Linked DNA regions of Homo sapiens: regions 1, 2, 4 and 5 are each linked to region 3. The links come from fine-mapping of genetic effects on gene expression. A gene starts in region 3. Each other region holds a variant in brackets. All regions are shown on one strand. Distances are between the middles of the regions.

Region 1 (5,957 bases), 120 kb before region 3:
TCCCAGGGAGAAAGGATGAATGCACCTGTGAGCCAGATTCTAGGTGTTGGTACCACAGACAGGCTGACCCTGATGATTGACTGGTGGTTCTTTTTACTTCTCACATCATCCTTAACACCCACCTGCACACCAAAAGCCTCTGGGCCAGGCCTTTAACTCTGTTTCAATGTGGGAGAGATTAGAGAAGATGCATGTATATACAAGATACACAGTTCTGAACTTGCATTGGAAATATCAATATAAACTCACAATGTAGTTACATTTTTCAGCCTTGCACTGTGGCTGAAGCCTATAATCCCAGCACTTTGGGAGGCCGAAGTAGGAGGATCACTTAAGCCCAGGATTTGGAGACCAGCCTGGGCAATATAGTGAAAGACCCCACCTCTATTTAAAAAAAAAAAAAAGAAAGAAAAAAGAAAACAAAAAACATTTCCTGGGCACATGTTCTCAGGGCCTCCTGAGCCTGTGTCACAGGATATGATCCTTACACACAAAATCACAAATTTCCTAGCTTTGTCAACGGAAAAAGCCTAAAACCAATGACCAACTCAGTAACAACAAACACTTCTGATGGCCATGGTATTTATGGTCTCTAAATCTCATTTCCATAAGAAGCAACCAAAGACCCTTAGAAGAAATAGCTCATTCCAGGTCTGTGGCAGTAAAAATACAAGCTAATCCTGCACATCCAGTCATGCCAGAAAGCAAAGAAGCTTTGAAAGATCACTTAGTGAAGACTGCAGTGAGCCATGAACGCACCACTGCACTCCAGTCTGGGCAACAGAGCAAGACTGACTTCAAAACACAACAAAACAAAGACCATTTAGGATTGTGTCAAAGGACTCAGAAATCAACTTGAAGAGGCTCCCACTGGCCAAAGATGGGGACAATTTGAACATGAATAAGGATAACAACTGCAAAGGATTTAAACACAACAAATATGTTTAAATCCATGAAAACATCATGAAACTAAGGAAGAAACCTCTGCCATCATCAGGGGATGCTAGGGAATCAATTCATTATTTTGAAAACTGGTGCGTGGCTGGGCGCAGTGGCTCATGCCTGCAATCCCAGCATTTTGGGAGGCCAAAGCATGTGGGTCACCTCAGGTGAGGTGTTCGAGACCAGCTTGGCCGACATGGTGAAACCTCGTCTCTACTAAAAATGCAAAAATTGGCTGGGTGTAGTGGTAGGTGCCTGTAATCCCAGCTACTTCGGATGCTGAGGCAGTACAATTGCTTGAACCTGGGAGGCGGAGGTTGCAGTCAACTGAGATAGCACCACTGCACTCCAGCCTGGGCGACAGAGCAAGACTCCATCTCAAAAAAAAAAAAAAAAGAAAGAAAGAAAAAGAAAACTGGTGGGTACAAGGAAGGAGGTATGCACTTGTTGAAGAAACGATAGAATATCCTATGATAGATAGATAGAAAGGATAGACTATCCTATGATAGATAGAAATGATACAATATCATATGATAGATAGAAATGATAGAATATCCCATGATAGATAGATGGAAATGATAGAATATTCTATGGTAGTTAGAAATGATAGAATATCCTATGGTAGATAGATAGAAATGATAGAATATCCTATGATAGATAGAAATGATAGAATATCCTATGATAGATAGAAATGATAGAATATCCGATGATAGACAGAAATGATAGAATATCCGATGATAGATAGAAATGATAGACTATCCTATGATAGATAGATAGATAGAAATGATAGAATATCCCATGATAGACAGATAGAAATGATAGAATATCCTATGATAGAAATGATAGAAGGCCGGGCGCGGTGGCTCACGCCTGTAATCCCAGCACTTTGGGAGGCCGAGGCGGGCGGATCACGAGGTCAGGAGATCGAGACCATCCTGGCTAACACGATGAAACCCCGTCTCTACTAAAAGTACAAAAAATTAGCCGGGCGTGGTGGCGGCCACCTGTAGTCCCAGCTACTCGGGAGGCTGAGGCAGGAGAATGGCGTGAACCCGGGAGGCGGGGCTTGCAGTGAGCCGAGATCATGCCACTGCACTCCAGCCTGAGCGACAGAGCCAGACTCCGTCTCAAAAAAAAAAAAAAAAAAAAAAGAAATGATAGAATATCCTATGATAGATAGAAATGATAGAATATCCCATGATAGATAGAAATGATAGGATATCCTATGATAGAAATGATACAATATTATATGACAGAGAGAAATGATAGAATGTCCTATGATAGATAGAAATGATAGAATATCCTATGATAGATAGATATACATGATATAATATCATTTTACAACCCCTGTGAAATAATGGATCTAAGTAAAGTTATCAATGACTGCAAACACCGAAAACAGAAGACAACCACTGGCCTGGGCTACTTTGTGAGACCCCGTCTCTACAAAAAAATACAAAAATTAGCCAAGCAGGCCGGGTGCGGTGGCTCAGGCCTGTAATCCCAGCACTCTGGGAGGCCGAGGTAGGCAGACCACCTGAGGTCAGGAGTTCGAGATCAGCCTCACCAACATGGTGAAACCCCATCTCTATCAAAAATACAAAAATTAGCTGGGCATGGTGGCGAGCGTTTGAACCTGGGAGGCGGAGGTTGCAGTGAGCCTAGATCACGCCATGGCACTCCAGCCTGGGTGACAAGAGCGAAACTTCGTCTAAAAAAAAAATTAGCCAAGAGTGGTGGTGCACACCTGCAGTCCCACCTGCTCAGAAGGCTGAGATGGGAGGATCACCTGGCCCCAGGAGGTCGTGGCTGCAGTGAGCCACCACTCCAGCCTGGGTGACAGAGTGAGACCCTGTCCCAATAAAAGAAAAAAAAAAGCCCAACAGTATATGCTCCCTTATATGGAAGTACAAATCTATTAAGTATTCTTGCAAAAACAAACAAACCAAATCTGTTGTCTCTGACTTTAATTACCAGTTTACAGAAAATACAGGGGCAGTAAAAAAAATTTACCATGGGAATACAGATGGTCTAACAGAAACTCCGTTTAACAAGTAAAGAAAAAATAATCGAGGACATACCTTTGGATTAAAAGATTACAAGAGAAATGGGCACGGTGGCTGAAGCCTGTAATCCCAGCAATTTGGGAGGCCAAGGCAGGTGGATCATATGAGGCCAGGAGTTCGAGACCAGCCTGTCCACAACGTGGTGAAACCCCGTCTCTACTAAAAATACAAAAAAATTAGCCGGGCGTGCTGGCAGGCACCTGTAATCCCAGCTATTTGGAAGGCTGAAGCAGGAGAATCGCTTGAACCCAGGAGACGGAGGTTGCAGTGACCGAGATCGAGTCACTGCACTCCAGCCTGGGTGACAGAGTGAGACTCCTTCTCAAAACAAACAAAAAAAGATTACAAGAGGATTTAATAACAAGATTACAAGAGGATTTAAGAGACATATCAGCCCGTGGCAATGTATGGAATTTATT[C/T]AGATTCCAATTTGAAAAAAACTATACCCCCAAACATTTATGAGGCCGGGAAATGTAAACGGTGACTGGATATTTGCTTATCTTAAAGAATTACTATTCTTAGGTATCATCATGGTAGCGTGACTACTTAAAAAAAAAAAGTCCTGGCCGGGCTTGGTGGCTCACGCATGTAATCCCCCAGCACTTTGGGAGGCCGAGATGGGCAGATCACCCGAGGTTAGGGATTCCAGACCAGCCTGGCCAACATGGTGAAACCCCATCTCTACAAAAAATACAAAAATTAGCCAGGCATGGTGGCTCATGCCTGTAATCCCAGCTACTTGGGAGGCTGAGACAAGAGAATCACTTGAACCCAGGAGGCAGAGGTTGCAGTGAGCAGAGATCGTGCCATTGCACTCCAGCCTGGGCGACAAGAGTGAAACTATGTCTCAAAAAAAAAAAAAAAAGAAAAAAAAAGTCCTTATCTTTTAGAGATATATTCTGAAATATTTCCTAATGAAATATGCTATCTGAAATTTGCTTCAATGTTATGTAAGAGGAATGTACAGAAGTATTGATGAAACAATGTTGACCATGAGCTGGTAATTGCTGAAGATGAATGATGAGTACATTGGCATTCTTTATACTCTTCTCTCTGCTTTTGTAGGTATTTAACATCTCCATGACAAAAAGTTTAAAACAGGCTGGGCGCGATGGCTCACGCCTGTAATCCCAGCACTTTGGGAGGCCGAGGCAGGCAGATCACTTGAGGTGGGGAGTTTGAGACCAGCCTGGCCAACATGGCAAAACCCTGTCTCTACTAAAACTACAAAAAAAAAAAAAAAAAAAAAATTAGCCAGGCATGGTGGCATGTGCCTGTAGTCCCAGCTACTCAGGAGGCTGAGGTGGGAGAATCACTTGAACCCGGGAGGTGGAGGTTGCAGTGAGCTGAGATGGTGCCACTGCACTCCAGCAGCCTGGGCAACAGAGTGAGACTCCATCTCAAAAAAAGAAAAGTTTAAAACAGCATTTTGAATATATGTCCCTAACTGGATATATCCCAAGGACTAAAACAACCACAAAGAAATCTTAAATTTCATTTAGTAATGTTATTGTCAGCAATATATTACTATTGTCACTTTGGAAACTTATATAGACTGAATGATAAAGCATATAAGTAATTATGTTAATATGACTAGGAACCCAAAATTTCAGCTCACTGCAACCTCCGCCTCCCGGGTTCAAGCGATTCTCCTGCCTCAGGCCCCCGAGTAGCTGGGACTACAAGTGCACGCCACCACGCCCAGCTAATTTTTGTATTTTTAGTAGAGACGGGGTTTCTCCATGTTGGCCAGGATGGTCTTGATCTCGTGATCTGCCTGCCTTGGCCTCCCAAAGTGCTGGGATTACAGGCGTGAGCCACAGCGCCCGGCCCCTGCAAAATATATATATTTTTGAGATGGAGTTTTGCTCTTGTCACCCAGGCTGGAGTCCAGTGACACGATCTCAGCTCACTGCAACCTCCACCTTCCGGGTTCAAGTGATTCTCCTGCCTCAGCCTCCCAAGTAGCTGGGATTACAGGCATGCGCCACCACGTCCAGGTAATTTTTGTACTTTTAGTAGAGATGGGGTTTCTCCATGTTGCTCAGGCTGGTCTCAAACTCCTGACCTCAGGTGATCCACTCGCCTCAGCCTCCCAAAGTGCTGGGATCACAGGCATGAGCCACCGTGCCCAGCCACCCTGCAATATTTAATTTGACTTGGAACATCAGTATTAACTTACTTTTTGTTGTTTCTGAAAGATAAACATCTCCTAGCTATGCCCACTGAAAAGACCTAAAAAAAAAAAAAAAAAAAAAAAGGCCAACCTAGTAGCAACCCTGTACTCAGATTGTGGTCCCTGACATGCACCAGAGATTGAGAAATGGCCAAGTCCATGTCTGGGGCAGGAAATGGACAAGATGAACTTGAGCTATCTTGTGCCTAAAATCAAGGAAACATCAAAGGCTACTGGAGTGGTCAAAAGAACACAGGAAACATCCGGAAGGAGGTCCCAGATGGACAGCTTGAGCCTCAACAATACCAACTGCAATGGATTGAAACACAAATGCATGAAATCCACAAGTTTGTAATGATAATTAATTTAAAACAATAACCTCACTGATCACCTTTGGTAGCTGTTAGAGCATCATCTGATTACTCCAAAAATTGGTAAGTGATGGGATAGTATCAAGCATTTATCATAGTTTTCCCATACAAACCATATTTTAGCATAATCAAATAATGAATGAGGAAAACATTTTCTTTATGGAAGACTCATACCGAATAAGTAATTAAGGAGTGATAGAACTAGAAAATCATAAATTTGCATATCTAATGCAATAGAATCTAGGCAATGATCATCAATGGTTTAGGAGAAGGGTTAATGAGACACTTTATAATGGCCAACATGGGCAACATCTCTACAAAGATAAAAACTAGCTGGTGTGGTGGTACACACCGTAGTCCTAGCTACTTGGGAGGCTGAGGCAAGAGTATTGTTTGAGCTCA
Region 2 (5,957 bases), 41 kb after region 3:
AATGCCAGTTCTCTTTGGGATGTTTTTGTGCAGGGGGTGTGACCTCCCTCATAAAGGAACCCCCACTCCCAAGTTTTCCCCTCTTGTCAGTGGAACCTGTGACCAACGGTTCCTTCCTGTCCTTTTCCTCCCTGAAAGTAGCCCGGGGGCATTCGAACATGGCTCTAGACCCCTGAATAGGGTTTGGAGCGGAGATGTGCCTGGGGAGAAGAGATCGCAGTGCTGTGTATGAAGCTTTGGGCACGTGCTCACAAGAGCACACACAGCAACCTGAGCAGGTCATTCCTTTTGATAAGGATGACAAATACACATACCAAACCCTGTTCCCCTCACCCACCCCAAACCAGTACCCCCAGGATGATTCCAGATCAGCTCTGGAGCATTTGCATCAAGGGCCTGCAGACTCACAGGACCTACTAGAGCAAAATATCAGTGTCTCAGACCCCAGTTTTGGCCTCAAATACTGGGTTTTTCTGCCAGGAGAAGTAGCTGCTAGTCTAGGAAATGCTGGGACTTGTCCAGAAAGATGAGGTTTGTGAATACGGGGTGTGGGGTTGGGTGGGGAATTAAGGCTGATGTATCTGGAGGAACTTTGGTTGGGCTGGAGGCAACTTCTGCCCTGTTCTATTCAACAGTTCCCTCCCCTCCACTACCCCATTTAATCTGGCCACAGCTCAGCTACCTGTGTATAAAATCTTGATCTCTCTCCTATTTCCTTTCTACCTTCCGTGTTTTTACTTACTCGAAAACTGTTCCCCTCTCCTGTGTGTATTTTTTTAATTGAAATATACCAGGCATTTAGGAAAGGAACACGAAACCTAAGTGTACAGGTCAACAAATGATGACACAGTGAACACCCCCATATGACCACCATCCAGATCTAGAACGAGATCATTATTGGCATCCCAGATACCCTCCTTCTATCCGCTCCTGGTGACTATGCCACACTCCTTCTCAAAAGTAACGTTTATCTAACACTACAGGTTAGTTTTGCTTACTTCTGAACTTTATATACATGGAACCATTCAGTAGGTATTATTTTGTGTCTGGCTTCTCTCACTCAATACTATGTTTATGAAACTCATCCAAAACATTGTGGTAGCAGTAGCTTATTTGTTTTCATTGCCGTACGGTATGCCATTAAATAAATATACCACAATTTATCTGTTATTCTGTTGACGGACATTTTGGTTGTTCCTACTTTGGGGTTATTATGAATAAGGCTGCGATAACGTTTTTGTTCATGTCCTTTGGTACACTTACGTTCATATTTATACTAGATATATACCTAGGAATAGAATTACTGGGTCATAAAAGGATATGCATATTTTTAGCTTTAGCAAATGCGACTAAACAATTTTTCAAAGTGCTCATATTAATTTACACTCCTGCCAGCAGCGTCTTAGTGTTCCAGTTGCTCTATATTCTCATTAACACTTGATATTGTCAATCTAGAAAAATTAAAAAATTTAGCCATTCTGGTGGGTGTATAGTGGTATTGTAGTTTAAATTTGCTTTATCCTGATAACCAATGAAGTTGACCACCTTTCCATGCATTTATTTGACCCTTGGATATCTGTTCAAGTATCATGTCCATTTTCTATTATTCTATTCCTTCTGTCTTACTACTTTTTTTTTTTTTTTTTGAGATGGTATCTTGCTCTGTTGCCTAGGCTGGAACCTCTTGGGTTCAAGTGATTCTCCTGCCTCAGTCTCCTGAGTAGCTGGGACTACAGGCACATGCCACCATGACAGGCTAATTTTTGTATTTTTGATAGAGACAGCGTTTCACCATGTTGGCCAGGCTGGTCTCTAACTCCTGACCTCAAGTGATCCGCCCGCCTTGGCCTCCCAAAGTGCTGGGATTATAGGTGTGAACCACTGAGCCCAGCCCTGTCTTACCACTTTGTAGGAGTTCTTTATGAATATCAGATACGAGTCCTTTGTTGGTTATAGGTATTGCAAATATTTCTATGAGTAAATAAATACAAAAGCCCTTGGTTTTGGTGTCTTCTGAAGTGTCAGGGCCACTGGAACAAGAATATAATCTCTATATCTATTTTGATCACTAGTGTAAACCCAGCTCCTGGCACATAGTAGGTACTTAATAAATATGTTGAATGAATGATGGATGAGGTGGATAAAGCTGATGTAGGTACTTTGCTCTGTATTGTGCTGATCCCTAGAGTCAAACACCAAGAGGACCTGGGGGAAGCAGATTTCCTCTGGCTTAGCCAGCTGTGACCTTAGGAAGAGGAAGACATCCTGGCCCTTCTCTACTGAAAGAGCAGAAATAGCTACAGTCTGTGAAATGATGAGCACAGATGTAGGGAGCGGAGGTCACAGATGAAAAGACAGGAACTACCAGCAAGTAGCAGGCCAGCCAGATACTTCAGAAGGAGAGACGCAGTTGGGGGTATCAAAAAGATAGTGAGGGTCTCTGAGCATCACTGTGGACCTTTGTATGACAAGAACCTCCAAAGGTCATGTGGACTCTCTCTTGCCTCAAGACATGCCCAGTCTTTGAGCTTGTTAGCCAAGAGAGCTCTTCCACACCTAGAAACACATTTCTTTCTCCAAAGGAGGTTCCCTGAAACTTTGGTTGGAGGGTCTTATTCCTAACCTGCATTGGGCAACTCTTTTTTTAAAATCAGCTTTAACTTCCTCATGGCCTGTAATGTCCATCCTGAATATGGAAGACCACCGAATCAGCCTCTTCTCCATGCACTGTTTTCATAGGCCTGTTGCATTCT[A/T]CAGCGTTTTTCTCTTGCTGTGTTTCTCTCCAGCATCCTTGACCAGCTCTGGTCAAGAGTCTCACTGATTCCTGTTACTCTGGGAGACAGAAATTTCCCCTTGCACCACCCTAACAAACTCACAGCATCCCCTCCTCATGTCTTTCAGAACATAATGTGGCATTTAACTAGAAGCTAGTAGTAGCACCCCAAATTTTTATATAAACTGAGCTTGGGGACGCCATCTAGTTGGAGAGAGGCTGGGTGACTTGTCATGAAACATCATTTGTATAGCAAGCACAGTGTTTTCATTTAGAATATGAGCATATGTTGGGTGTGGGGTGGGAAAGAGTGTTGTGGCAAAAGGAATTGTTGATCACTCCACAGGCAGGGGCCTGTGGAGGAGCCTGTGTGGGAAGGTCCTCTGTGGGGCAGCATTCTTCAGTCTTGCTTGGCACTTGTCCTAATATGTGGTTAATTTAGCCTCTATCCTGAGGTTCTCTTAGCCCCATGGCCTTCCTTCTGGGCCAAGTACTGTCTACCAATGGCTTCTCCATAGACTACCTGAATACTCATCTTGAGACATCATAAAATTCCAGAGCCCCATAGATCCTGGACCCCCTAACCAGCATGGCTAGTTGTAAGACTAGCCTGACGTGGCTGGAAACTTTTCTATCTTTTGTTCTGTGGGGGAGGGTGCCCCCTCCCATTTTTCCCCTTGCTGTGACCCCTCCGCTGCTCCCTCCCTCCCAGAGGTCAACTTCTTTCCTGCTGCCCAGAGCTGAGGTGACATCCCCTTCCGGCTTCATTCAGTTTTAGGAGGATGTAGTGATGGGGGTGGGATAGGGAAGTGTGGCCATCTGTGCTCAGCACTGTCATCATTCCCTTTGCTTCTCTATAACTGAGCTCCCTTTCCCCAAAGCCCCCTGGATACCCACCCTGGGATTCCCTTAGGCAGGATGGTTCCAGGTATTTGGAGCTGCAGCTCTGAATTTACTGAGTATAGCTGGGAAGCCTTGACAGCAAACAAAATGGTCTGGTGAACTATAACTGGGGATAGAAAAGTAATCTTTGAGAGGCAGTGCTGCAGAGTGGAATATGCCACAGCATTGTAATCACATGGATTTGAATCCATGAATGGCTCAGCAATTCATTAGGCACATGACCTTGGGCCATGTCTATCAAATGGAGACATAATTCCCTTTCTGCAATATATGTTCCATGGTGAGCAGTTCTATGCAAACCTACCCCCAAAGTCTGAGAAAGCTCAGAGGCCAAAGAGGCTGACAAATCTGGTTTCTTGAAAGAAGCATTTAATAGGGACTTGCGAACAGAAGCCCTGTCTATATCCCGGACAGCAGTAAGACCAGGGCTTGAATACCTTATAAGGAAGGAATACCTATACCTTACAGGGAAGGAATGTGTAGGACAATTGTAGGGAAAGGCGAGAATGCTATGTGAAGTTCCCTAAGGGCAGGATTTATGGTCAGTTGTTTTAACCTAAGAGCAGGATTTATGATAAGTATATGGTCTTACCAAGGAATAGTAGATAAAATAGAAATCTTAGAGGCATTTCCAGAACTGGAGTTAATCAGAAGTCAACATGGTGGATTAGCATCCAAGATGGAGTTGCATTAGCCTTCACAGATGATGAGAGGATTAGGATAATATAGCATTTGGAACATTCCCTGCACGCAGTAGGACTGTTAAGATCTCACCAAAGAGAAACAGCCAATAAACAGGGATTAGGCACTTGGAACGGGCAGCTCAGGCTTTTTCTGGGCCTCACGTGAAATTTTAGACTTCCCAGAGTGTGAGGGCATGCCTACCTGGAAAGGGTTAATGATGGACAGTCTCTTACATAGATGCAGGTAGGAGCTAATAGGGGCAGCAACCCCACAGTGGGTCACAAGCCAAAGATGAGCAAACTTTATCTTGCAAGAGCCAGGATGCAAAAAGACTGTATCTTGCAAACCAGATTACCTAGTTTCAAACTGCCCTCTGTGTTTACTGCCTACTGCTCTAGGATTATCCTCTAGACCAGGGTTTCCTAAACTGGCCTGGTCATAGGAATCACCTGTTGGGAACTTCTTTTAAAATATAGATTTCCAGGCCTCTTTCCTGGAAATTCTGTTTCCAAACGTCTGGTGCTGGGCCAGGAAACCTACCCTTTTAAATAAGTGCCCCAGGTGACTCCCATGATCCTACTGGGTTGGGAAACTGCCCCAGTCTGGTGGTTCTCAGTCCTGGCTGCATATTAGAATCTCCTGGGGAGCTTTAACAAAAATATACCTTTGTCACAGGAGGAAACACTGTGACAAAGGTATATTTTGTCACAGGAAGGCAAGGCTCAGGAAGTCTTCAAAGACATGGAGGTGCTTTGATTGAATCTGACTGTGTGGGTTTATATGCAAACTCATTTAATCCTAATAATTACCCTAGGAGGTAGGCTGTTGCAATATATCAGGTGGAAAATGAGGTCAGTGGGTTGGAGAATGGTAAATAGATTTAAAAGTTATTTAGGTTAGTTGTTAGAGAATTGCAAATCAAAACCACAATGGGATACCACTTCATATCCAGTAGGTTGGCCATAAAAAAAAAAGAGAGAAAATAACAGAAAATGACAAGTGTTGGTGAGAGTGTGGAGAAATTGGAACCTTGTCCATTTGCTGGTGAGAATATAATGTGGTGCAGCTGCTATAGGAAACAGTTTGATGTTTCTTCAGAAGGTTAAACACAGAATTACCATATCACTGAGCAATTTCATTCCTAAGTATATGCCTAAAAGAATTGGAAATGGGAAAGAATTATTCCAGTTAGAGAGAACAGAGTGAAATGGCAGGAAGGCAAGGGAGAATTTGGCATTTTCAAGGAACAGCAGGTTCTTCAACATGTGGTTGGATGCACGTAGGGACGTGTTAAATGAAAGATGAAATGGTAGGCTTTGGTGATATGTTACAGAGCTGAAGGCTTCTTTGACATGAACGTATTGTTTTATGCTTGATCACAAAGTCCTTGAACACAGAGACTTTATATTTTAAAATTTATATTAATTTTGAAATACCTTATATTTTAAAATTTCTGTGATGTTTGCTGACACCTTGTAATTTACACATCTGGGCCTTCTTTCTCTGTCAGACCGTTACATATGGAGTCTCATTCACTTGCATAGTGTCCATTTATGATGCTCTGTTCATGATGCCCAAATATCTTTGTCTTAGACTT
Region 3 (5,957 bases):
TAATAAAATTTCACTGTAAAAAATTAATAGGGATAAACTCAAATCAAATAGGCAGTGAAACCCTATGGACACACAACTCCAATCCCATATGTTTAACTTTAAGCCCTCAATTCACTGAGATGAGTCCACATGCGTGTATTTAGTGTGAGATGGATGATTCATACTCACTCTCCAAAGGGGTTTCCAGCTTTTACTCTACTGTCAAGCTCATTTATTTGCTACTGTTTGTCTCCAAGACTGGGGGTGGGAGTAACTATGAAAACAATTCTCATTCTCAGGTTAAATAGTTTCTGGGAGATTTAGGGGGTTTTCTCAGGGAAGGGGTGATGGGGGAGAAGGGGGAAATGAGACAAGTGTGGTTGCTTTCGTATCTTCCACATTCAATTTCACTGTTGGTTTCTAATCAAATTGTATTATGAAAAGAACACACCCTGGGGAACTCTACATCCACCATAAGGTTGCAGGTATTATCTTGGGCAAGAATGGAATAAATGGAAAAGGTCCCAGAGGAGTCCCAAGAAGAAGACACTGTGTGGATGTTGCTGAAGAGTCCTGCTGGAATCTACCACCAAGTCTGCAGGTGCTGAGACTCCTTAAGGCTGAGTAAGTATTCCATGGGGAAAGCCTTTTGGCTAAGGAGAGAAACAGAGTAATTTCTGAGGTTTGGAAATATTATCTTTCACATCTGTGACAGGAATCAAAGCTAAGGGAAATTTAGACTAAACACTGAAAAAAAAATTAGCCAATTATATTCTTTGCTAAAGGAAAACTACAGCAATTGTTAAAAATTAACTATTAATAGCAGGCCACTTTTAACCCAAATCCGTGAAATAGGGACCCTTATATTATTTAGGAGTGGGAGGGCAGAGCGGTCAGGATAGAGTGTCTGAAACTTTGAACCTTTAATTTTGCCAGACTTAAATTTTTTGTTCCTTTGTTTTTGAGACAGGGTCTCACTCTGTTGCCCAGGCTACAGTGCAGTGAGTGGTGCGAACGGGGCTCACTGAAGCCTCGACCTCCCCAGTTCAAGCAATCCTCTCGTCTCAGTTTCCCGAGTAGCTGGGACCACGGCTACTTTCTTCTTTAATTTTTGTAGAGGTGGGGGTCTTGCCATGTTTCCCATGGCTGGTCTCGAACTCCTGGGCTCAAGCAATCCTCCCGCCTCAGCCTCCTAAAGTGCTGGGATTGCAAGTATGAACCACGGTACTGGGCCCTACTGGGGGTTCTTAAGGAGAATGTTTTAATTGCAATGTAAATGTTTGTTAATTTCTTTTTAAACTTCCATATGAACAGGAGCACACATTTTCAATTTTTCCATTGGTACGAGTTTTCCCCCCTTGAAACAAGTTCTTTTAACAGAGAGAAATAAAATTTTAAGTTACTCTCCCCCATCACCAGCTCTTCCTAGCTAAATACCTTCTAATTAACAATAAGGCATTTCTGCCTCTGAAAAAATAGTTGAGTCCAAAGGCCACACCCGGGAAAGAAATGAATGAACTCGGTGTCCCCTTCCTCCCTACCTTCTCCAGTTTGAGGAAAAAAGTGGTGGGAAGATAGGTCAGAGAAGTGGTATATTTCACATTCTTGGAAGAATTCCTTGGTTACCTTTATTTAAGCAATCAACGGACAAAAACACAGCTCATCAGCCCTCATGGGCATCTGACTGCGTAGCCAAGGGGCTCGTTCGGGGATTTTGTGTCTTCCATCCCACCCACAGCCCCACAACAAAGCTACAGTCCTTCAGACCAGTTCCGCTTCCTGCGTTCTCCCACTGAAGCCAGGTTAAACACCTTGCGGTTCCTCCCTCAACAGAGGGGCAGGACTACAGCCCCAGCCGGCACCTAACCAGGAGGCCCCACAGAGGATCTCAGCTGCTTCTGCTGATTGGAGAGATTTGCCGGACAGCTGAAAGGCTGGAGACTTAAGTTCACAGTACGCCTGCAATAAACAGCAATTGCTCATCCTCATCCTCCCTTCCCTATTTCTCATCTTCACGCCTTTGCTCTTACCTTTCTCCTGGCAGTGGGCTCAGTTTGGGAAAATCTAACGGGAAACTCAAGAGAGGCGTGTAAACCAAACACCCGGCAATTACACCATCTAGGTTCCCAGACAGTACTTCCTGACCCGAAGAAGGACCCAACAACCGACAGCAAATCCCCACCCCACTTGGGTCCCCAGCTCGAGTCCGCGGTCGGGGCCTCCTCCTCCCCCTCCCCCTCCCCACCCCCGAGACGTCTCACCTCCCACCGTGGACTTGTAGTGTTTGCTGAAGCTGTCCTGGGAATATCGCTGCACCAGCGACGTCTTGCCCACTGCGGCGTCCCCCACCACCAGCACTTTGAACAGGTGGTCGCGGCTGCCCATGGCTAGCGGGGTGTGCGTTTTAGGGAGGCGGGAAGTGTGGTCGGGGATCGGGGGTCGCTCGTTTTAACCCCTTTGGATCCGGACCCTCTTCAAACTGAAGTGAGGCATTCCCACCCACCGCCTGTCTGGGCTGCTCTGACGAGAAAGCAAAAAAGGAAACTTTGCACTCAACCTATACGCGCTTCCTCCCCGGGCGGCCGCAACCTGGGTGGGGCGCAGGGCGCGAGCTCCGAGCCCCCGGCTGTTCGCACCTTCCCCACCCCCTCCTGGCCTGACTGCCGAGAAACTGGACCAGGCGCCGCGGAACCTCACCCACCGGGACTTCCCCCGAGCGGCTCCAAGTCAGTGACTGAATCCCAGTCAGCTCCTTACACCACTGGGGCCAGATGATGGGGACCCTCCCCTTGCAGCACAAACCAAATTGTGAGGAAGGAGCAGCCGGCACCTCGATTCCCTAGACGCCCTCCCGCGCGCCTCTCTCTCCCCTTCCTCCGCAAGCGTCACGTGCAGGGTTGCCTGTGGCACTACATTTCCCAGCTTTCCTCGCGGTAAAGAGAACCAGCCGAGTGCGGAGGCTCACCGCGAAGCCTCCTGGGAAATGTAGTATATTCGTTATTTTGTTTTAAGCAAACCTACACCAAGTTTCAAGGCTTCAAACTCCCTCGACAGTTTGGAATCTTATTTTGAAACAATTCTAGGTCAGTAAAGATCCCTTAAGGGGAGATTTGTGCAACGTGATCTCACTGGCCTGAATCCATCCCCAGATAGTTTTCTCCTGTCTTTAAAGGTTTAACTGAGTTAAGATTGAAACTTATTTCATTAGTAAAAGCCCAAGCCTCATCCATCATGCTCCAAGTGAAGTCCATTTCCTATTCCTTCAAGTAGATAGACAAGCCCAGGACTTTGTGAAATGACTCATATTTTCTGTGTGAACTTGCCCAATACCAGGCAAGTTCAGGAAAACTTGACCCAAGAGACCAGTCTTTGGAAAAAAACCTATGCCAAAAATTACAGCATTTAATATCCAGCAATAACAATAAAGATGGACAGAAAACAAGAGACAGTTCTCCATTCATACTTCTACAATGCCTATTCTAGCCATACTACTCATGTATCACTTGAGCTAGAAGCTAATTGAAATACACTGGGACTCCTTCTTGATTTGTTGTGGCTGTTGTTAATAGATAATCATAAAACTAGTGTTTGGCAAATAATTTTAATTTCTCAGCCTGTAACTTTACTGACCTACCTGTCACTTGGGTAGAAGTTGGCAGGACATGAGCTCAATGGCAAGCAAAGAGAGCTCCATTTTCTATACTTTTCTAGGAATAGAGGAAGAGAACCAGCGGGGCCATGGGAAAACAGCCCAGGACCAGACACTAGGAAATCTAGGTCTCTTGATAGAGAGGCTATCACTTATGTTTTGTGGCGAAAGAACATCAGCATGGTTCACAATATATTTTGCCCAGAATGTTCGTTACCCAGGTACAGGAGGTTAGTTCAAGCTACTCATCTTTAAGGATCCAGTTTTCTCTGTTCTTATTCGTTTTGACATAGTTGACCACTCCTTGACATTTGTTTCCCTTATGCCTTCTATGACGCTGTTCTTTCTTTGTCATCCCCGTACTTCTCTGATGATTATCTTTTTCTTTCAGGTTTCTCTCCATCCCATTTCCCGCTAAGTATTTCCTAAGGCCTGATTCTTGGTCTCTGAGTCAATCATTCGATAAACTCTTTAGTGAATTGTCCTTGGTGTCAAAGATCTATCTTCACTTTATTTGTTCTTTATCTCTGATCAGTGATATTCTGTCAAGACCAGCTCTGTTGGGGAGACCCTAACCCAGTGGCGCTAGAGGAATTAAAGACACACACACAGAAATATAGAGGTGTGAAGTGGGAAATCAGGGGTCTGATTTCCTTTAGAGCTTTTAGAGCTGAGAGCCCCGAACAGAGATTTACCCACGTATTTATTAACAGCAAACCAGTCATTAGCATTGTTTCTATAGATATTAAATTAACTAAAAGTATCCCTTATGGGAAACGAAGGGATGGGCCGAATTAAAGGAATAGGTTGGGCTAGTTAACTGCAGCAGGAGCATGTCCTTAAGGCACAGATCACTCATGCTATTGTTTGTGGCTTAAGAATGCCTTTAAGCGGTTTTCCACCCTGGGCGGGCCAGGTGTTCCTTGCCCTCGTTCCTGTAAACTTACAACCTTCCAGCGTGGACGTTAGGGCCATTATGAACATGTTACAGTGCTGCAGAGATTTTGTTTATGGCCAGTTTTGGGGCCAGTTTATGGCCAGATTTTGGGGGGCCTGCTCTCAACATGTCCCTCTTCTCTGATTTGCAAATTGATAAATGCAAAGGCAGCTTTGTCACGGTGAGCTACTTCTCGCAGGAGTCAGGATACACATCTGCAGACTATACAAAGACAAACAACACAGATTAAAAGCACAATCATCATTGAAATCACAGAGCTTCCAAGTGTTTTTATCCATTTTCGGCTCCTTTAAGCACTCCAGTTCCTGGCATTAAGGTCAAGTGTGCCTCGGATGCTTTAAATATTTCTTCTTTTAATTTTAAATCCTTATGTTAAGCTCCTAGAGCGGGCCATATCATTTGAGGTTGAGGTGTCACTATACTGCCATGGTTCCAGATAATAGGAACTCTTGCTGTACTTCTTATTATATCTACCATCTGACCATTTTGTTCAGACCAGCTGAACATAGTGTGGCCGTGGCACGCAGACTGAGAGGTGCAATTCAAGCTAAACATCCCCTTAGGGGACCAATTAATAATGATTCCATAGGAATCATTGTGCAGCATCTCTGCCTGTTCTGCAATGCAATCTTCCTAAACAAGTACGTTCATTTTTTCTAACTGGGTCCAATCCTGTTTACAAATAAGTTTTTGAGGGCGGTATGCCTCAATTATAGGAGCAGATTTATTATGGTAAATACTGAGATCAGAAAGCATGTGTAACTGCGTCATAAAGTGATTGCATCCAGGCATTATTGCCAGCCAAGATTGATAAATATACCCAATAAGTATAATTGTTCTCTGTGTCAGCCCTTAATGAAGGAATACTCACGGCACTGGTGATAACCGCTATCATAGCTACCATTAACACTTTATTTGTTCTTTATCTCTGATCAGTGATATTCAGCTGCCCAAAAGGTGCCCCCACTTGGATGTCCTGCCACATCCTTCCTCTTACTACATTGCCATAAAAATAGCTCCTTTTCTCAGCTTCCCTATTTCTGTCACTGGTCTCATCATTTCTTGCCTCCATGTAGACTTCAGATTCTGAGCATTATTATTTCCTTTACACATGTCCCTTTATACCTATTTATTTGTTTGTTTGTTTATTGAGATGGAGTCTCACTCTGTTGTCCAGGCTGGAGTGCATTGGCATGATCTTGGCTCAGTGCATCCTCTGCTTCCTGGGCTCAAGTAACTCTTGTGCCTCAGCCTCCTGCGTAGCTGGGACTACAGGCGCATACCACCAAGCCTGGCTAATTTTTGTATTTTTTTTGTAGAGACAGGGTTTTACCATGTTGGCCAGGCTGGTCTTGAACTCCTGACCTCAAG
Region 4 (5,957 bases), 78 kb before region 3:
AAACGCTTAGGAGGTGTACAGCTCCCTCAAGCTCTCTCTGGGCTCCAGGAGGCTGGCAGTGCCTCTGCAGCCAGAGGTAAAACAGAACCTTCTGAAGCATGCAGCAGAGAGCCCTGAAAGAGAAACAGTCCCCTGAGGTTGGCCTGTCCTCTCCTTGCCACCATGCAGTCTCTTAGACAAGCTCCTTATTAGAATCCGTAAAGAGTCAGATGGGAAATATTGCAGGGGCTATATGGTCTCCATCGCAACTACTCACCTCTGTGCTTGTAGCACAGAGCAGCCACAGATAATACAGAAATGAATGGGTGTTGCTGTGTTCTAATGAAACTTTATTTATGCACACTGAAATTTAAATTCATACAATTTTCATGTGTCATGAAATATTCTTCTTCTTTTGATTTTTTTCAACCACTTAAAAATGTAAAACCATTCATCGCTCAGGGACCATACAAAACCCAGCAGTGTGGCTGGGCGTGGTGGCTCACGCCTATGATCCCAGCACTTTGGGAGACCGAGGCGGGTGGATCATGAGGTCAGGAGATCGAGACCATCCTGGCCAACATGGTGAAACCTCATCTCTAATAAAAATACAAAAATTAGCTGGGCGTGGTGGCATGCGCCTGTAGTACCAGCTACTCAGGAGGCTGAGGCAGGAGAATCGCTAGAACCCAGGAGGCAGAGGTCACAGTGAGCCAAGATCACGCCACTGCACTCCAGCAAGACTCTGCCTAAAAAAACCAACCAACCAAACAAAAAACAAAAACAGAAAACAAAACAAAACAAAACCTGGCGGTGGCCTGGATTTAGTCTGTGGATGGTGGCATTCTGTTTATCCCTCCATCAGGGTTGCCTCGTATTGCAGCCTCCTTAAATGAAGAGCATGATACAGTTGATTAAAGGAATGGAGGCAAGATTATTGTGTAACGGCACCCAGACTCTGTTTTACTATCTCTGGATAACCACGTGGATTATTTTTAATCCATATCTATTTTGCACTTTCATGTAATTCTCTCCTCCTCACCACAATCTTAGAAGCTAAGCGATAGCATTTCTGTTTTACAGATGGGGAAAATTAAATTCAAAGAAGTAAAGTAACTTGTCTGGGATTACACAGCTAATATATGGCAAACCTAGGATGCAAACCTAAACTTGTCTGGTTTATTTTGTTCCTATACTTGGTTTTCTAGTCTCCGAGGCCAGCGTTCTGCCCACAAATGGGCCTTCTCCAATCTCACTGCAATATCAGAGGGATTCATTTATCACCCAGTGAAATATTTGGCTGGGTGCAGTGGCTCACGCCTGTAATCCCAGCACTTTGGGAGGCTGAGGCGGGCAGATCACGAGGTCAGGAGTTCAAGGCCAGCCTGACCAACATGGAGAAACCCCGCCTCTACTAAAATACAAAAAAAAAAAAAAAAAAAAAATAGCTGGGCATGGTGGCGTGCGCCTGTAATCCCAGCTACTCGGGAAGCTGAGGCAGAAGAGTTGCTTGAATCCCGGAGGCAGAGGTTGCAGTGAGCTGAGATTGCACCACTGCACTCCAGCCTGGGCGACAGAGTGAGACTGCGTCTCAAAAAAAAAAAAAAGAAAGCCAGAGTACGAGAGGCGTAAATGGGGTGAGATAAGTGGGCAGAAACTAGACCATATGTATTTCATTCTCACACAACAGGAAGACATTAGAAGGAGTCAAGCAGAGGAGTAACATGATGTAATTGACTTAAAAAAAATTTTTTTTGAGACAGTGGCTTCCTCTGTTGTCCAGGCTGGAGTGCAGTGGCGCCATCATGGCTCACTGTAGCCTCAACCTCCCTGGCTCAAGTGAATCTCCTGCCTTAGCCTCCCTAAGTGCTGGGACTTATAGGTGGGAGCCACTGCACCTGGCCATAATGTACATTTTTATTTTTATTATTTATTTATTTATTTTTTTAGACAGAGTCTCTCTCTGTTGCCCCTGCTGGAGTGCAGTGGCGTGATCTTGGCTCACTGCAACCTCCGCCTCCCAGATTCAAGCAATTCTCCTCAACCTCCCGAGTAGCTGGGACTACAGGCACACGCCAACATGCCCGGCTAATCTTTTGTATTTTTAGTAGAGACAGGGTTTCACCATGCTGGCCAGGCTGGTCTCAAACTTCTGAACTTGTGACCTGCCTGCCTCGGCCTCCCAAAGTGCTGGGATTACAGGCATGAGCCACCACGCCCGGTCTACCCATAATGTACTTTTTTTTTTTTTTTGAGAGGGAATCTCGCTTTGTTGCCCATGCTGGAGCGCAGTGGCATGATCTAGGCTCACTGCAACCTCTGCCTCTTGGGTTCAAGAGATTATCCTGCCTCAGCCTCCTGAGCAGCTGGGATTACAGGCATGCGCCACCATACCCAGCTAATTTTTTTTGTTGTTGTATTGTTAGTAGAGACAGGGTTTTGTCCTGTTGGCCAGGCTGGTCTCGAACTCCTGACCTCAGGGGATCCTCCCACCTTGGCGTCCCAAAGTGCAAGGATTACAGGCGTGAGCCACCATGCCCAGCCCCATAATGTACATTTTTAAAGGTCATTTTGGGAGGTATAAATTTGGCTCCAGTTAGGACCTGAGAGGTGCCAGAGGCAGGAAGAGTAGATGAGAGCAGGAAACAGAGACTCGAGAGCCTATAAGCCCGACTTTTTTTTTTTTTTTTTTGAGACAGGGTCTTGCTCTGTCACCCAGGCTGGAGTGCAGTGGCACAATCATAACTCACTGCAGCCTTGAACTCCCAGGCTCAAGTGATCCTCCTGCCTCAGGAGGGATCAATAAAACCAGTGAAAAAAGTAATGATTGGCACAAAGAAGTTTGGAATAGAACAGAAAATGTGCTGTGACCACTAGAGTGGTGGGGAGGGCCTTGAATGAGGTGGAAGGGCTCTTTTAGACTGGCCACATCCAAAGCAAACTCTGTCTCTATCCTCCTCCTTCTATCTCCCCTACCCCATGCCCACTCTGGAGGAGGCAAGACCGGAGGCCCAAAGGGCGATGGGAGAGAGAACTGGCAGACCA[C/T]GCATCCAGGAGCACAGTGGCCTGTTGCCCCTGGTCACCACCACCACTGGCTTCAAAGGCCAGGGGCTCTTCCCAGCCACATCTCTGGCTCCAGGGGGAAGCAGGAGGAAGTCAGGAGCTGGGAGGTGCCAGAGGCAGGAAGAGTAGATGACAGCAGAAAACAGAGACTCAAGAGCTTATGATCCCCTTCTGTTCCAAAAGACGCGAAGGGAGGTAACCCATGTTCAAAAGAAACAAGAGTGGGAACAAGGAAAGGAGGGTTCTATTTCCCCCCATTCCAGTGGCCTAGGGCTGGGGAACAGTCCCATGATGGGATCAAAAGGTCAAGTGTCTTCGTGAGATCAAAGGTAGCCCTGGGAGGAGGGCTGTGCAGGGCCAGGCACTTTCTGGAAGGCGTTGGAGGGACCAAGGACTTTGGCTGCTTGGGGTTTGGAATCTGAAGAGGGGGTGGTTTGGTGGATGGTTTGCATTTGCTGGGCTGGAGGAGAGGGGCAGGCGAGCATCTTGTCCAACACACCCTGGTAGCTGCTCCAAAGAGGGATGCACACTGTCTGTGTCAGGCCTTTAATAAAGTAAGGAGAAGCTCACCTTGAAAGCAGAAAAAACAGAGTGTGGAGTACCCAGCCAAGCAGTAACTGAACTAGTGACCCCTTGGGCCAAACCCTATTTGTGAATTCCTGCTCTGCTTTGAGGCAATCCCTATGCTCCAAAGAGGGGGCCTGCATCTAATTCAGTCCACTTCTGAGTCCAGTCTCCCTGCCTGAGTTCAGTCTGTCCTCTGTCTTACTCGTATGCCCCCTACAAGCTTTCTTTAAACCAAACTCCTTTTCAGAGGTCTTTCCTGACTAGCCAGCCCCAAAATCTTTTTCTTTTTTTTCTTTTTTTTGAGATGGAGTCTTGCTCTGTCGCCAGGCAGGAGTGCAGTGGCACAATCTTGGCTCACTGCAACCTCCGCCCCCCAGGTTCAAGCGATTCTCCTGCCTCAGCCTCCCTAGTAGCTGGGACTACAGGCGCAAGCCACCATGCCTGGCTAATTTTTGTATTTTTAGTAGAGACAGGGTTTCACCACATTGGCCAGGCTGGTCTCAAACTACTAACCTCAGGTGATCCGCCTGCCTCAGCCTCCCAAAGTGCTAGGATTACAGGTGTGAGCTACCAAGCCCGACTTTTTTTTTTTTTTTTTTTTTGAGACAGGGTCTTGCTCTGTCACCCAGGCTGGAGTGCTGTGGCACAATCATAACTCACTGCAGCCTTGAACTCCCAGGCTCAAGCGATCCTCCTGCCTCAGCCTCCTAAATTGCTGGGACTGCAGACATGAGTCACTGCACCCCTAATATCTATTACTTCTTTACTTGCCATTAGGGTGGGGAGGCAGAAAGGAAACTAATATTCATTCAGGGACTACTGTGAGTCAAGAACTTTATGTATCCTATTTTACTCATTGCTCAGGACTCTTATGAGAAAGATACTATTATATCTTCATTTTACAGGTTAGAAAATGTAGTCTCAGAGAGATTAAGTAATTTGCGCAGAACACACAGCTAAAAAGTGGTGGAGGCGGGGTTTGAATAAGGTGTTCCCAAAGCCCCTGCTGTCATCACTGTTAGAGCTGCTTCAGGATTCCTGTAACCTGCATGTATATCATTTCACACACTGTCCCATGCCATGTCCACTGTCACTCTCACCCATATATTATCATTTGTTCACTATATGTAATTTTGGCCTCCTGTAGTCCCAACTGCTTAATACTAATCATGACCATGCGTCCTTTGATCAATCCTTTCATCAGACTGAGCCTTGATTTTTGGCTCATTGTTCGTGGAAATGACCACCCCCCACCGTCATTCTTGCTTTCTTCCCTACTCCCACCTGGACTACAGTGCTAGAGCAGATTGTCCTGAGTCATTTCCAAGGAACACTGACTGAGGATCTGATGTGTGCCCGGCACGATACTGGCACTGGATAGACAAGCATGTAAAAACTTGATGTTCATATAAAAATGAACTGTCACATAAATGTCCATAGCAGCCTTATTTGTATAGCTCCAAATGGAAAACAACCCAAATGTCCTTTGACAGGTGAATGTTCAAACAAACTCTGGTACTAATATACCACAGATTACTACTCAGCAATAAAAAGGAATGAACTATATCTTTTTTTTTTTTTTTTTTTTTTTTTTTTGGACAGAGTCTTGCTCTGTTGCCTAGGCTGGAGTGCAGTGGCATGATCTCGGCTCACTGCAACCTCTGCCTTCTGGTTTTAAGCAATTATCCTGCCTCAGCCTCCCGAGTGGCTGGGACTACAGGTACACACCACCACGCCCAGCTAATTTTTGTATATTTTGTAGAGATGAGGTTTTGCCATGTTGCCCAGCCTGGTCTTGAACCCCTGAGCTCAAGCAATTTGCCCACCTGGCCTCCAAAAGGGCTGGGATTACATGTGTGAACCACCGTGCCCAGCCAGGAATGAACTATTGATTTATGCCATGACTTGGATGAATCTGTAGGGAATTATGCCAAGAGAAAAGCCAATCCCTAAAAGTCACATGCCATATGATTCCCTTTATATAAGGTTTTTGAAAGAAAATTTAGAATTGGAGGGCAGAATAGTAGTTGCCAGGAATCAGGTACAGAAAGGGGAATGGGAAGGGAGGAAGTGTGGTTTTAAGACGGCAACATAAGGGACCTCTTCATGTTATAACTGTTCAGAATCTGGATTGAGGTGGTGGATACTCACATGTGGGTGATGAAATTGTATAAAACTCAACACACACACACATACAGGTACAAATAAAACAGGAAATCTGAATAAGGTTGTTGGATTGTATCAGCGTCAATATCCTGGTTGTGATATTTTACTGTAGTTTTGCAAAATGTCATCAATGGGGGAAACTGGGCAAGTATACAAGGGATCTCTCTGTATTGTTTCTTATA
Region 5 (5,957 bases), 130 kb after region 3:
ATAATAATAAAGAATGTCTACTGTCTTCACTATTATTTAACATTGTTTTGCAGATACTAGTCAAGGCAACTAGATAAGAGAAAAAATTATAGGTATAAAATTTGGAAAGGAGGTACAGTTATAATTATTTGCAGACAGAATGTATAGCTGAAAAAGCTGAAGCAATCAAAAGCAAAACTACTAACATTGTAAGAGAATTCAGTAAGTAATCTGGATGCACAATTAATATACAGAATTGATAGCCTTTATGTATGTAAACAACAACAACCAGTTAGAAAATACAATAAAAGAAATTCCATTTATAAAGGCAGTAAAAAACATTTAGGGTTAAACTTAAGACATGTGTAAGTGCTGGCTGGGCATGGTGGCTCACGCCTGTAATCCCAACACTTTGGGAGGCTGAGGCGGACAGATCACTTGAGGTCAGGAGTTCGAGACCAGCTTGCCCAACATAATGAAACCCCAGTCTCTACTAAAAATACAAAAATTAGCTGGGTATGGTGGTGCATGCCTGTAGTCCCAGCTACTCCGGAAGGCTGAGAGAGGAGAATCGCTTGAACCTGGGATATGGAGATTGCAGTGAGCCGAGATCACGCCACTGCACCCCAGCCTGGGCGACAGAGCGAGATTCTGTCTCCAAAAAAAAGAAGTGTGTAAGAGGTATATGGAAACACTTATGAAATTATCAAAAGAAGACTTAAACAAATGGGAAGAAATACCATATTCTTAAATTAAAAAAACCTACAGTGGTCCCCCACTTATCTGTGGGTAACATATTCCATCTACCCCCAATAGATGCCTGAAACCTTGTATAGTACAAAACCTTGTTTATAGTATTTTTTTGCTGCATATATGTGTGTGTGTGTATATATATATATATGTATATATATATATATATGTGTATATATATATATGTATATATACATATATATATATGTATATGTATATATATGTATATATATACACATACATATTTTTTTGAGACGGAGTCTCGCTCTGTCGCCCAGGCTGGAGTGCACTGGTGTGATCTCGGCTCACTGCAAGCTCCATCTCCCAGGTTCACGTCATTCTCCTGCCTCAGCCTCCCGAGTAGCTGGGACTACAGGCGCCTGCCACCATGCCTGGCTAATTTTTTTTTTTTGTATTTTTAGTAGAGATGGGTTTTCACCGTGTTAGCCAGCATGGTCTCGATCTCCGGATCTCGTGATCCGCCCGCCTCAGCCTCCCAAGGTGCTGGGATTACAGGCGTGAGCCACCGTGCCCGGCCTTTTTGCTGTATATATTATACATACCTATGATAAAGTTTAATTTACAAATTAGGCATAGTAATATATTAACGACTAATAATAAAATAGACCAATTATAACAATATACCAGCATCACAATGCTTGTACTTTGGGGTTGTTGTTATTATTATTATTATTGTTTGAGATGTAGTCTCCTTCTGTCACCAGGCTAGAGTGCAGTGGCACGATCTGGGCTCACCGCAACCTCCGCCTCCTGAGTTCAAGCAATTCTCCTGCCTCAGCCTCCTGAGTAGCTGGGACTACAGCCGTGCACCACCACGCCCAGCTAATTTTCGTATTTTTAGTAGAGACCAGGTTTCACCATGTTGGCCAGGATGGTCTTGATCTCTTGACCTTATGATCCGCCTGCCTCAGCCTCCCAAAGTGCTGGGATTACAGGCATGAGCCACTATGCCTGGCCTATTTTGGAGCTATTACTAAGTAAAATAGGGGTTACTTGAACACAAGCACTGTGATACCGTGACAGTTAATTTGATAACTGAGATGCTACTCAGTGACTAATGAGCACATAGTGTATAAGCATGGATATGCTGGACAAAGGGGTGATTCACATTCCAGGCAGAACATACACCAGGATGGTGCAAGATTTCATCATGCTACCCAAAACAGCATGCAATTTAAAACTTATGAATTGTGTATTTCTGAAATTTTCCATTTAATATTTTTCAGACCAGGGTTGACTGCGGGTAACTGAAACTGTGGAAAGTGAAACCCACAGTTTCAGTTATCCGCAGTAAGGACTGACCTTCCTCTATATCTTGTAGGGTCCATCCTCACCTAGAACATAAAGATGTACTTGGGGGCTATTATAGATGTACTTTGGGGCTAACATAAAGATGTTTTAGGCTTATAGCTTTTGCTTTCTTATTAAATTTTCATAGGTTTTCTTGAATAGATGTGTCTTCATTTGCTGTTTGCCCTTGGGACTATTTCTCGAGGCTTTATTTTATTTTATTTTATTTTAGTAATTTTCACCAGTTTCACAGGGGAGCTGGTCAGTGGAACTCCTCACATTGTCATGCCACTTCTGCAGTGTGCCCTCCTCTGGGGGCCAGTAGCCACTACACCTTTCCAGAACTCAGATGTTGGGATGACAACATCAAGGGAAACCAAGGATGTTGGGAATTCCAAGATCAAGGTGCTGGCAGATTTGATGTTGGTGAGAGTCCTCTTCCTCTTCCATAGATAGCTGTCATTTCACTGTAACCTCACACGGCAGAGGGTGAGATATCTCTGGGTCTCTTTTATAAGGGCACTAATCCCATTCATGAGGACTCTACCCTCATGACCTAATCACTTCCCAAAAGCCCTTAATACCATCACCTTGGG[G/A]GTTAGGATTTCAACATATGAATTTTGGGGCAAAACACACAGTCTCTAGCAACTAGAAAGCCTTTCTAATTCTCTCTCTCTCTCATCATCGTTGGTATGAGCTCAATTCTTGTTTTTAATGGTTTAAAATTCATCCTTGTATTTAATTATTTTGGTGCTTAAATTGCACGTAGAGACCACTTTGATCTGGTTCCTGTGACCTTGTAACATACTCCCATCAATTTTTTGGAACAATTCCTTGCTTTCTGGTATAAAAATATGTTCCAGACTTATCTTGTATCCAATCCTATCCCCGCCTTGGAATCAACCATTTCTTTTAAGAAGTTCTGTCTCCTTTTAGAAAGGAATGGTGTTAGAAGCTGAAATCTGGGTACTAGATTTGTTCCTTTTTACTGGGTGTCATTACTTCTTGGAACTTTCAGCAGTCAGCACTAGGAAATATATCCATGTACACACCATTGTTCTGGAGGCTGGGAAGTCCAGGATCAAGTTGCTGGCAGATTCGATGTCTAGTTAGGGCCCTCTTCATGCATTGCTTAACAATGGAGACACATTCTGAGAAAAGTCTCTTTAGGTGATTTTGTCATTGTGTGAACCTCATAGAGTGTACTTACACAAACCTAGATGGTATAGCCTACTATACACCTTGACTACATGGTATAGCCTACTATACACCTTGACTACATGGTATAGCCTATTGCTCCAAGGCTAGAAGCCTGTACAGCATGTTACTGTACTGCATACTATAATACAATGCTAAGTATTTGTGTATCTAAACACAGCAAAAAGTACAATAAAAATACAGAACTATAACCTTATGGGATCCCATTGTATATGCGATTGTCATTGACTGAAACATTGTTATGTGGCCCAGGGCTACATACCCGTACATACAAATGTACATACACACATATATACATATTCATACATATACATGTGCACATAAACAGGCACACAAACATACATATACAATTTTGAGGAAATTGTAGAAAAAGGTGAGAAGCGAGTGTTCTTAGTTATAGTAGGATGCCTATTAGGACTAGTAAATGTAGAGGGTGTGCTGGGATTGGAGAATCATCATTTTGCAATCATCGTAGTATTGATAGGATCAGACAAGAATTGTCAATGGATACTTAACCTAGGGGAAATTTTAATGAGCAGCAGAATATTTGCATGGTCTTAAAGTGTGTCCTCACAAACTATAAGTTGCAAGGGAGAAAAAAAAAACAACCCCAGTAATCATATAGTGGAGAAATCAGGCAATACCCCCAACTGAGTAATCAAAATTAATTTCACCTATGAGAGACTGGTGGCCATTATGTGCTTCCAGATGTGTTAGGCAGAAAAAGACAGAGCATTTCCTATGGAGTATTCTGGGAGAAAATGCAAAACCTCAGTATAATCATAAGGAAATATCAGACAAATGCAAAATGAGGAATACAAAGAAAGGGTGGGTGAACCACAATCTTAGAAAAATGTCAATGCTGTAAAAGACAAAGACGAGTTGTAGACACGTTCCAGATAACAGGACACTAAAACACATGCAACTAAATTCAGTACCTGGCCGGGCATGGTGGCTCATGCCTGTAATCCCAGCACTTTGGGAGGCCGAGGCAAGAGGATTGCTTGAGCTGAGGAGTTTGAGACCAGCTTGGGGAACATGGAGAAATCCTATCTCTACAAAAAATACCAAAAATTAGCCAGGAGTAGTGGTGTGCACCTATGGTCCAAGCTACCTGGGAGGGTGAGGTGGGAGGATCACCTGGCCCCAGAGGTTGAGGCTACATTGAGCTGTGATAGCTCCACTGCGCTCCAGCCTGGGCGATGGAGTGAGACCCCGTCTCAATAAATAAATGAAAAAAAGAAAATAAATTCAATACCTGACTTTAGATTAAATCCTGTGCTGGAGAGGAAAAAATGCTTCATTAGATAAACTGACAAAATTGGTATATGAATGGTAGATTAGATAAAAGTATTGGATCAATGTAAATGCATTAAGTTGATAACTGTACTGTGATTATGTAAGACACTATCTCTCAGGAAATACACACTGAAGTATTTAAAGTTAAAGGACTTCATCCTCAAATGCCTCAGAAAAAAGTTATGCATGTCCACAGAGAGAAAGAAAAGAGACATAAGCCAGTGGTGGTGGCTCATGCCTGTAATCCCAGCACTTTAGGAGGCCGAGGCGGGCAGATCACCAGAGGTCAGGAGTTCGAGACCAGCCTGGCCAACATGGTGAAGCCCTGTCTCTACTAAAAATACAAAAAAATTAGCCAGGCCTGGTGGCAGGTGCCTGTAATCCCAGCTATTCAGGAGGCTGAGGCAGGGAGAATCGCTTGAACCCAGGAGGCAGAGGTTGCAGTGAGCTGAGGTCACACCATTGCACTCCAGCCTGGGCGACAAGAGTGAGACTGTCTAAAAAAAGAAAAAGAAAAGAGAGACAATGAAAGAGTAAATGATAAAGCAAATGGGGTAAAATGTTAACCATAAGTGAACCAGATTAAAGAGCATACAGTGTTTATTATGTGATTTTTTTTTTCTTTTTGAAAACAGGGTCTTGCTCTGTTGCCCAGGCTGGAGTGCAGCGATGCGATCATAGCTCATTGTAATCTCAAATCCCTGGACTCAAGTGATCCTCTTGTCTCAGCCTTCCTGGTAGCTAGGACTATAGGCATGTGCCATCGTGCACAGCTAATTTTTAAAAATTTTAAATTGTCTTTGTAGAAATGGGGGGTAAGGGTGGGGATCTCCTTTTGTTGCTCAGGCTAGTCTCAAACTCCTGGCCTCAAATGATCTTCCTGCCTTGGTCTCCCAAAGTGCTGGTATTACAGGTGTGAGTCACTGCATCCAGCCTCCTGTGATACTTTTAGTTTTGCAACTTTTTATTCGTTTGAAATTATTTCCAAGTAAAAAGTTTGTTTAAAAAAACCTCTTATTTAAACAAAAATCTTTGTTGAAGGAAAAGTGTTTACTTCCAGCTCTGGAAGTAAGAAGTAACTCGCATAATTCTAAAGAATCTGCTTTCATGTTATGCAATTTAGAGACAGAAGGTCTTAGTGTCATCCTGTTTGATCTACCATCTAGAGCAGGAGCTCCTCTGACAACATCCCTGGCAGGTGGTTAGCTTACCTCTTCTTGGGCATGTTCAGGGATTCACAGTCTTAAAATTACCCCATTCCAGTCTAGAATGGTGAGATGGCTGTCTTACAAATGCTTCTATACTACCTCAATATACGACTAATGCCATGTTGTAGTTAGACAACTACATAGGTTACAGTGGGTTTGGAAGATGAAAGGCTAAAGAAATGTACCCAATTC

The links. PIP is the estimated chance that this variant, and not a neighbour inherited with it, causes the effect. A credible set is the group of variants that fine-mapping cannot tell apart.
Region 1: its variant is the best candidate, but not a certain one, in a credible set for the expression of RAB29 in fibroblasts (GTEx, PIP 0.52).
Region 2: its variant is the best candidate, but not a certain one, in a credible set for the expression of RAB29 in visceral fat (GTEx, PIP 0.76).
Region 4: its variant is the best candidate, but not a certain one, in a credible set for the expression of RAB29 in whole blood (INTERVAL, PIP 0.82).
Region 5: its variant is the best candidate, but not a certain one, in a credible set for the expression of RAB29 in putamen (GTEx, PIP 0.84).

What each region holds. Positions count from the first base shown.
Region 1 is chr1:205,649,720-205,655,676 of GRCh38, forward strand. No RefSeq gene overlaps it. Among named protein-coding and RNA genes, the nearest start is that of ELK4, 21 kb to the left of the region's middle. The variant C/T (reference allele first, on the strand shown) is at 3,428.
Region 2 is chr1:205,814,072-205,820,028 of GRCh38, forward strand. No RefSeq gene overlaps it. Among named protein-coding and RNA genes, the nearest start is that of SLC41A1, 3.9 kb to the left of the region's middle. The variant A/T (reference allele first, on the strand shown) is at 2,754.
Region 3 is chr1:205,772,593-205,778,549 of GRCh38, forward strand. It overlaps RAB29 (RAB29, member RAS oncogene family), which reads right to left and starts at 2,890. Exons shown (of 6, transcript NM_003929.3): 1 at 2,681-2,890; 2 at 2,241-2,494. The coding sequence starts at 2,364. RefSeq lists an enhancer at 1,755-1,804.
Region 4 is chr1:205,694,120-205,700,076 of GRCh38, forward strand. No RefSeq gene overlaps it. Among named protein-coding and RNA genes, the nearest start is that of SLC45A3, 17 kb to the left of the region's middle. The variant C/T (reference allele first, on the strand shown) is at 3,025.
Region 5 is chr1:205,905,612-205,911,568 of GRCh38, forward strand. No RefSeq gene overlaps it. Among named protein-coding and RNA genes, the nearest start is that of SLC26A9-AS1, 26 kb to the right of the region's middle. The variant G/A (reference allele first, on the strand shown) is at 2,637.